Linked DNA regions of Homo sapiens: region 1 is linked to region 2. Evidence: fine-mapped expression QTL. A gene starts in region 2. The other region holds a variant in brackets. All regions are shown on one strand. Distances are between the middles of the regions. Region 1 has its middle 180 kb from the start of MIR4522. Region 2 holds the start of WSB1 (WD repeat and SOCS box containing 1).

Region 1 (4,397 bases), 180 kb after region 2:
TAGATATAGGGTAGGAGGGTAGAGCCTTCTAGTTGATGCTGCTTGTCTATGTGTCTCACTTTATGAAAGTAGGCTTTATCACAGTGTTTCTAAAGTGTGGTCCCCTGACATAAGCATCATCTTTGCATGAGAGCTTGTTCAAAATCCATATTTGCGGCTCCATCCCAAACTATTGCATTAGAAACTCAGAGATCCCAATTCAGCAATCTGTGTTTAAATAGCCATCCATGAAGCTGGGCATGGTGGCTCATGCCTGTAATCCCAGCACTTTGGGAGGCAGAGGCGGGTGGATCACTTGAAGTCAGGAGTTCGAAACCAGCCTGGCAAACATGGTGAAACCCCGCCTCCACTAAAAATAAAAATAAAAAAATATTACCCAGGCATGGTGGTGGGCACCTGTAATCCCAGCTACTTAGGAGGCTAAGGGAAGAAAATCTCTGGAGCCTGGGAGGCAGAGGTTGCAGATTGCACCATTGCACTCCAGCCTGGGCGACAGAGTGAGACTCTGTCTTAAAATAAAATAGCCATGCATATCACCCTGATGCTTGCTGAAATTTGAGAACCTTGTTTTATAATGTGCTGTAAAAGTTCAGACATTTTGACTTCATTAACTATAAGCTATTACTGAGACTTGGTTTCAGTTAGCTAATCTAGCTGACTATTAATGCCACTTTTCATTGTGGTAGCCAAAACATCACACCCTGAATTCAGGGTGAATGCATTTGTGCAAAAGAATTCAGCTTCAGCAAGTTTTGTATTTTGTTGCCCATTGTCTAACATCTTTAGAATTCACTCCCATGCATGATTTCTAGCTCCCTGCCAATAGTGACAATGACCTATACCTTTTTTTGTTTTGTTTTGAGACGGGGTCTCGCTCTGTCGCCCAGGCTGGAGTGCAGTGGTGTGATCTCGGCTCCCTGCAAGCTCTGCCTCCCAGGTTCACGCCATTCCTCTGCCTCAGCATCCTGGGGAGCTGGGACTACAGGCACCCACCAGCACGCCCGGCTAATTTTTTTGAATTTTTTTAGTAGAGACGGGGTTTCACTGTGTTAGCCAGGATGATCTCGGATCTCCTGACCTCGTGATCTGCCCGCCTCGGCCATCCAAAGTGCTGGGATTAAAGGCATGAGCCACCACGCCCAGCCAACCTATACCTATTTTGTAGTATAGGCTATCTTGTTTTCCTTTGATAGAAACAGAAACATAATTATTGGGGCTTTTCCCTTAAAGGGTTTGTCTACATGAAACTATCCCAAAGATGCCAGAAGTACTCATCAAGTCCCTGATGAGTGAGCTGACAATTCAGTGCACATAGTATGTCTATACAAAATAAAGAAGCAATCATCCTTACATAATGTTTTGTAAAACCAGCTTTTGGTATGTATTTTGCTGTAAAGATCAGCTATTATTGATTTCTGACAAGGCATTTCAATAGAGATATTTTTCACTAAGGCTCCATTTACATGATTCAGCAGTCAACAAAACCAGAGCTGGGGCCGAATCATCCTACAGGAGTTCAGAGAAGACCTACACGTGGATAGCAACAACACGTGATCACAGGAAACCCACGAAGAGAACAATGTTTTCCCAGAAATAAAGGGGTCTATTTCATACATACAAAGGACCTACACTCCAATCCACTGCACAGACAAATAATTTACATCTGCAAAATATATGTATGGATAATGATCCTTCATGTGAAGCTTGAGGCTAAAATATACCAATGACGCATTCAAGGGATATTCAGCTTTAGGAGGTTTCTATCTTGCTATAGCAACTTTTGAAAAAATTAAACATATAATTTTAGGAAAACGAATGAGATCATTGCCACACAGATATATTAAATAAGCTAGGGAAACAATGGAGGATATTACATGTACTGATGGTCGTGGTCTTTAGTATAGGTAAAGCAACTGTGGCCAGTTTTCCCTACGGCGGCCTTCTTTTAGGTTGAACAGTATGAAGTTGCTGCGTTTTGACCAATTGGCACCTCCATGTGGCAGTTTTATGTGTCTTAACCTAATAGTTCATGAAAAAAAATTTATTTTATTCACTCATGGGAGAATCTGTCTTTATTCTTTGCATCAGGAATTAGAATCCAGACAATAAATATACCTATGTGCACATGTAAAATTTACTCTTTTATTATTAGAATAGGTTTTACTTATTCCCACTCTGCATCTTTCTGATTTCAGTAGTTGCAATCTCTAGAGATCACTGTGATTATGGGTAAGATGATAATGACCTTATTCCAGAGGGGGAGTTTGTAACCTAAGCTAAGTCAATAAGCAATACACACAATCATCTATTTGTTCAGAAATGGGTATGTTACAATGGTGGGCTAAACAGAGAGGGGTTGGTGACTGTTGAAAGTGTTATGCATATAAATTTGAAAGTGGAATAGGATAGACTGAGATTATGAGGGAAGACTGTCTTAAAATGAAGTCAT[G/C]ATCAATGAAGTAAAAGCTGGCAGATAGTAATACCGCTAAACTCTTGGGTCAGTCCTTGCCTGAAGCCTGAGAGGAATTCTAGACCTTCAGATTCATAAGCCAATGAATATGCTATATTCTGTGTGGCAATTTTAGTTATGTTTTTATTACTTTTACAATAAAGTATCTTAACACATATGTGAAGGCAGTCATTCTATCTATATATATAAAATCATTAAAAATATATTAACATAAATACATAAATATTATGCAAACTATTGGTAAATTTATTACGCTCTATAGCTCCAAAACAATTTACATTCAAAATCATACAAATATGTGTGTACGTATATATATATATATATACATATATCTTTTATAAGTATTAAGTTGCCACTCTAGAAGTGAAGAAATGCATGTCTTATACACACACACACACATTTGTATGTATACAAATTACATTTCTTCTCTTCTAGAGTGGCAACTTAATAATTATAAAAATGTTATATGCAGCTAGTGGTAATGAGTGCTGGGTTTGGATTTCTGATCTGGTATGTGGATACTAATGCTTTGGGATTCCACTAATGTGTTAGGTGTAAACAGATGTGAGACAGAAGTAAAGTGGTAGGTAGGAGTGATGGGGAATAATATTATTGAAATTCCACATTTTAAAGATTTCCAAATCCTCTGTTACCTTGTGAGGGGAAATCTTCATTCTTAATGACAAAGTTATTTCAGCCATTGATTATATTCCAAGACAGAAGTGCCTCCACTACCAGTTTCTCTAGTTGTGGTATGAACCTCAATATTCAGACAAATTGAATAACAGCTGATTATATCTGACAGGCTTTCAGAGGGCCTGGGGTCAAAAATAAAACCTTTTGAAGTGACAAATAGATGAAATCATTAAAGAAGTGGTACCTAATAGCATGATTCAATTTGTTCTAAGTAAAAAAAGAAAAAAAAAGAAAGAAAAAAACAAAGTGAGCAACAGAAGCCAGAAGCTGTCAGAGGCACTTGATATATTTCTGTGATGGCATTTATAATCTCAAGGGATTGAGCGGGGAGCTTTATGTGGAAATGTGTGTGGGATATGTGTGTCAGAAAGAGAGGGAGAGAGGGAGGGAGAAGAGAGAGAGAAAGAGAGATCAAGACAGAGAGAGAAGTGCGAGAGTGTTTTGTTGTTGATGAAGCAATTTTAAAAATATCACCTCATTTGGGCCTTGCAACAAACCTACACAGTGTGAAGGGCAGTTATTATTATCCTCATTTTAAAAATGATGAAAGGGAGGCTGATGTCCTTAGTGGCTAAATGACTTTAGTACAGACAAATAGCTAGTGAATGGTGGACTTGGGATTATATTTCATATCTTCGGACTGCAAAATCCTTAAAAGTTTTACAACTCCTTCATATTATAATGCACCACTCATAAATGAAATCTAAAAAGCTGCTAATACAGTTTCAAATTGAATATTTTGTCACATCCTAGACTAATAAATCCAGTTGTATCTATATATAGTTATACATATCTCTTCAAATTTCCTTTAGGAGGTAAGATTATCATATATATGTATGTGTGTGTATATATATATACACACACATATATATGCATACAAACAAATTATATATATTATAAAGATATATATCTAGATCTACCTATATATACACTATATAAAGATCTATGATACACACACACACACACACACACACACACACACACACAAAACAAGATTTGTTAGGCTAGGATGTGACAAAATAAATATAACCTGGTAAATTTATTGAGAGAGAAAAGAAAAACTGTGTTTTGTAAATGTGTAAATATATATATACGTCTTAAAGAGATATATAAAGATATATAATTACATATCTTTATAAAGATATATTTAAGATATATCTATATTATATATAGACATTATATATTATGTGTATGTATATATAAAGAAATATATATAAAGATATTATATATA
Region 2 (4,397 bases):
ACTTGGCTTGGCTTTTAATTAACACCCAAGAAAAGAAAAAAAGTAAATCCTTATTCATAGATTTAAAAAGCTACGCAGAGAAATGTTCAACCTTGTATCCAAATGATAATTCAAAAAAAGAAACAAAGAAAAAAACTGGGGTTAAAAAAAGCTCAGAAAAAGCAAAAGTTCTTCTAGATATCTGGCACTTAGCTAGTAAGTTTTTATAACGTATCCAGGAAATAACACTGAGACCTAAATATGAAAAAAAAAAAGAAAGAAAAGAAAAGAGAAATCAGGGGGCTAGTGGGGGAACACTTAGTGGATGGTTCTACTTTATGTAGGTATGCTATCCATCTCTATCCATCTCTTAGAAAACAAAACCGGAAATCTGGGCGGGGTGGCTCACGCCCGTAATCCTAGCACTTTGGGAGGCAGAGGTGGGCGATCACCTGAGGTCGGGAGTTCGAGACCAGCCTGACCAACATGGAGAAACCCCATCTCTACTAAAAACACAAAAATTAGCCGGGCGTGTGCATGCCTGTAATCCCACCTACTCAGGAGGCTGAGGGAGGAGAATCGCTTGAAACCGGGAGCCGGAGGTTGCAGTGAGCCGAGATCGTGCCATTGCACTCCAGCCTGGGCAACAAGAGCAAAAACTCCATCTCAAAAAAAAAAAAGAGAGAGAGAAAACAGGACCGCAAAGTTTTCAAAATGGTTTATCAGGATGAAGTAAAATACAGATTTAAAAAAAAGGCAGATCACTCGTCTATAACATTATGGTGTACTAAAGTAAAAGAAAAACCCACTGGACTGATAAGAACTTTTGAGTTCTTTGTCCCACTTCGCGACATACTTTCTAGTCTTAAAATACAGTTAAAATAATAACTGGACACAAATTCTGTGTTCTTTGCATCTTTTTTTTTCTTTTTTCTGTGTGAACTCTGCTACAATTTTTTCCCTTTTTTTTCTGTGTTTGTATCTTTAAAAATGGTTATTAAAACCAGGGTTAAAGTCCCTTCCTAATCAATCATCCCTAAGACAACAAAAGTCCAGAATTCTAAAACAGCTGTTTCTAGATATAAAAATTCACCCACATACAAAATAGTGCGCGTTTTGGCTACTTCAGCCTCTTCCCTTCTCTAGAAATAACTCCTCCTTGTACTTAGTAAAGGCACACATTCACTTCAAGAGTAGGAAAATGTAAATGCTCTCTGCTCAGCGGCCGCAGCTAATTATTACTTCACACAGTAAGATCAGTGTTTGCTAAGTGTTATCAGCCAATGTACAGCACCCCCCAACACCGTCAAACGTTGTTCCAGTTATTTTACTTTAAAAGAGGATTTAAATAATGCGACGTGCTTTCCACTGAGCCACTAAGTAGGTGTGGACGCACAACCTTCAACACTAATTGCCCTTTACTAAGCCGACCAGGGCTAGACACTAAGCCAGAAAAGCCTTTTCCAGAGTTTCCTCTTCCGCACAAAAGCTTTCCTTCTGTCACTCCACCCAACCACCCAGCTCCTCCCTTAAGTGTTTGAAAGATAATTCTAAAAGTCTCCTCCCCCGAACCGCTGCGTTTCTTAAGGCCACACCATTTTAAAAATACTGTATTGCTTTTGCCAGGCTGTTGGGACCTCTTCCATCTCATTTCTATCTAAGAGTGGTTGGTACACACGAGGACCCCCTCCTTTCATTACCGCTTACAACCCACAAGTTTACTTTTCCCCATTGTAAACCTAAAGTCCCTGAGTGGCCCTTCCCTGTCCACTCGACAGTCATGCCCTGAGCCAAGAACTCCCAGGACAAGAGCCCTGCGCGGACCTCCGACGAAGAAACCGGGGTCCTTGCCCGCCCCAGCCACACAGCAACCGCGAGGGAGCACAGTAGGTGCTGCATCCACGTCGGTGCCGTTTACCCCTCAGCCAACTCCCACCGAGGCGGCTTCCTCCTCCTCGCTAGTGGGCTGGCCCTGGCGCACTGGAGCTCTTCCCTCAGACTTGGAGTCGCTTCCTCCCAAACCTCCTCCGGGGAGTCCCTGCCTCTCCTCGGCCCTCATGCGCCCACCCACGGTCCCAATCCTCACCGATCTCTTTCTCGTTGACCCTCGGGGGAAAGCTGGCCATCTATGGGGCACCGTCTGATTCCGGGAATACGATGCGGACCCAACAACAGAGAAGAGAGTGGCGACCGCTGAGGGGCGTGACGCCAAGTTGGTCCCTCCCGGGCCCAGGGACAGAGGAGACGGGCGGGGGCGGCCGCTGCGGCTTCTGCTAACTGCCTCGGGAAAGCTCCCGAAGGCCTCAGACCAAAGTACGGAGTCAACCACAGACAATAGACCCTGTACCCAGCCTCGCGCCTGCGGAGGAAGACAGTTCCCCTAAAGCGCCGACTGCAAACGAGACACTGGAGTCAAAATGGCGGGCGGCGCCGGAGATATCTGGGCGGCAGGGGCGCGGCCACGTGACGTCACAGCCCGAGGCCCCCGCCTCCCGACGCACGGGACGTGATCTCCCCGGCCCGGCGCGGGCGTTGCCTGGGGGCCTCGCAGGGGGAGATCCAGCCCAGGCTGGTTCCGCTGACTCTGCCTGTAGGCCGGTGGCGTCTTCTGGGCCTGGATGGTCTAATATGGAGTTTATAAGCTGAAGTGGCTTTGAAAAGGGCAAGCAGAGAATTGTATTATTATTAGCCTCCTAGCTTAAAGATTGCATGGAACTTAAACTGGCTGAACCAAAAGAACAAAAAGACATTTCAGGTTTTCACTCAATTTGGCCAACTCCCCAGCCCACAAGTAATAGGGAACTGAAGGATGCACTGATGAAAAAGACAGGATGAAAATTAACATCGTTGTGCACCACCTGTCCAGCTGCGATTGTTCAGACCTGAGCCAGCAGGTTTTAGGAAGGGCCGAGGGGAACGAGAAGGAGACTCGGGCGTGATCGCGCCGCACCGCGCCGCGGGGCCTCTCTGGACTGCCTTTGTCCTGGCCAAGATGGATCCCACTGTCCTGGCCAAGATGGATCCCACTGTGTCAGCTCAGAATTGGCCCTTCCTCCACCTTACCTGAAGGCCTCTGGGAGGCACCTAGTTGTCCACACATCAGACTGATAAATGTGTCAGTATCTGCTAGATGCCAGCTTGGTTCCCGGTCACAGATGACGTATTTGCATTTTAATGGCTTCTCGTGTGGACCCTAAACATTGCAAAGGCCTGGGGCGTATAAGACTGGGAATTCAAATATGTGGCAGATATTCATGGGACAGAGTAGAGTGTTGCATAGCCGCTTTTTTTTTTTTTTTTTTTTTTTTTTTTGAGACGGAGTCTCGCTTCTCCCAGGCTGGGGTGCAATGGCGTGATCTTGGCTCACTGCAACCTCCGTTTCCCGGGTTCAGGCAATTCTCCTGCCTCAGCCTCCCCAGTAGCTGGGATTTGTACAGGCATGTGACACCAAGCCCGGGTAATTTTTGTATTTTTAGTACAGAGGGCGTTTCACCCTGTTGGCCAGGCTAGTCTCGAACTCCTGGCCTCGAGTGATCCGCCCGCCTCAGCCTCCCAAAGTGCTGGGATTACAACGTGAGCCACCACGCCCGGCTGCATAGCCGCTTTTAAGAGATCTCAAATGATAACACTGTAGGGCATGTTTACTTCATCTTTTCTTTGCATGAGTGTATTAATTCTTCAAATAGCGAAATGTTTAATAAAACATCGCCCCTCCTTTTTTTTTTTTTTGGTTATTTATTTATTTTTTTTTTTGAGACGGAGTCTTGCTCTGTCTCCCAGAGCAGAGTGCAGTGGCGCCAACTCGGCTCACTGCAACCTCTGCCTCCCGGGTTCAGGCGATTCTCCTGCCTCAGCCTCCCGAGTAGCTGGGACTACAGGTGGCTGCCACCACGCCCAGCTAATTTTTTTCATCCTTTTAGTAGGGAGGGGGTTTCACGATATTGGCCAGGCTGGTCTTGAACTCCTGACCTTGTGATCTGCCCACCTCGGCCTCTCAAAGTGCTAGGATTAGAGGCGTTAAGCTACTGCGCCCTGCCTGCCCCTCGTCTTTAAAAAAAAATCACTTTGTTAGGCTGGGGGCGGTGGCTCACGCCTGTAATCTCAGCGCTTTGGGAGGCTGAGGCGGGTGTCAGGAGTTCGAGACCAGCCTGGCCAACATGGTGAAACCCCCATCTCTACTAAAAATACAAAAAATTAGCCAGGCGTAGTGGCGAAGTCCCAGCTACTCTGGAGGCTAAGGCAGGAGAATTGCTTGAAACCGGGAGGCAGAGGTTGCAGTGAGCTGAGGTTGCACCACTGCACTCTAGCCTGGGTGACAAGAGTGAAACTCTGTCTCAATAAATAAATAAATCAATAAATCACTTTGTTAGCTTCAGTCAACGATATCTTGAGGACTCACTCTGTATCAGGCACTGGGC

What was found. PIP is the estimated chance that this variant, and not a neighbour inherited with it, causes the effect. A credible set is the group of variants that fine-mapping cannot tell apart.
Region 1: its variant is the best candidate, but not a certain one, in a credible set for the expression of WSB1 in whole blood (TOPMed, PIP 0.77).

The regions. Positions count from the first base shown.
Region 1 is chr17:27,110,845-27,115,241 of GRCh38, reverse strand. No RefSeq gene overlaps it. Among named protein-coding and RNA genes, the nearest start is that of MIR4522, 180 kb to the left of the region's middle. The variant G/C (reference allele first, on the strand shown) is at 2,450.
Region 2 is chr17:27,292,104-27,296,500 of GRCh38, reverse strand. WSB1 (WD repeat and SOCS box containing 1) reads right to left here and starts at 2,387. Exons shown (of 9, transcript NM_015626.10): 1 at 2,066-2,387. The coding sequence starts at 2,105. It overlaps MIR4522 (microRNA 4522), which reads left to right and starts at 2,505; the gene lies at 2,505-2,591. RefSeq lists enhancers at 2,109-2,168, 2,179-2,238, 2,609-2,658 and a silencer at 2,359-2,568.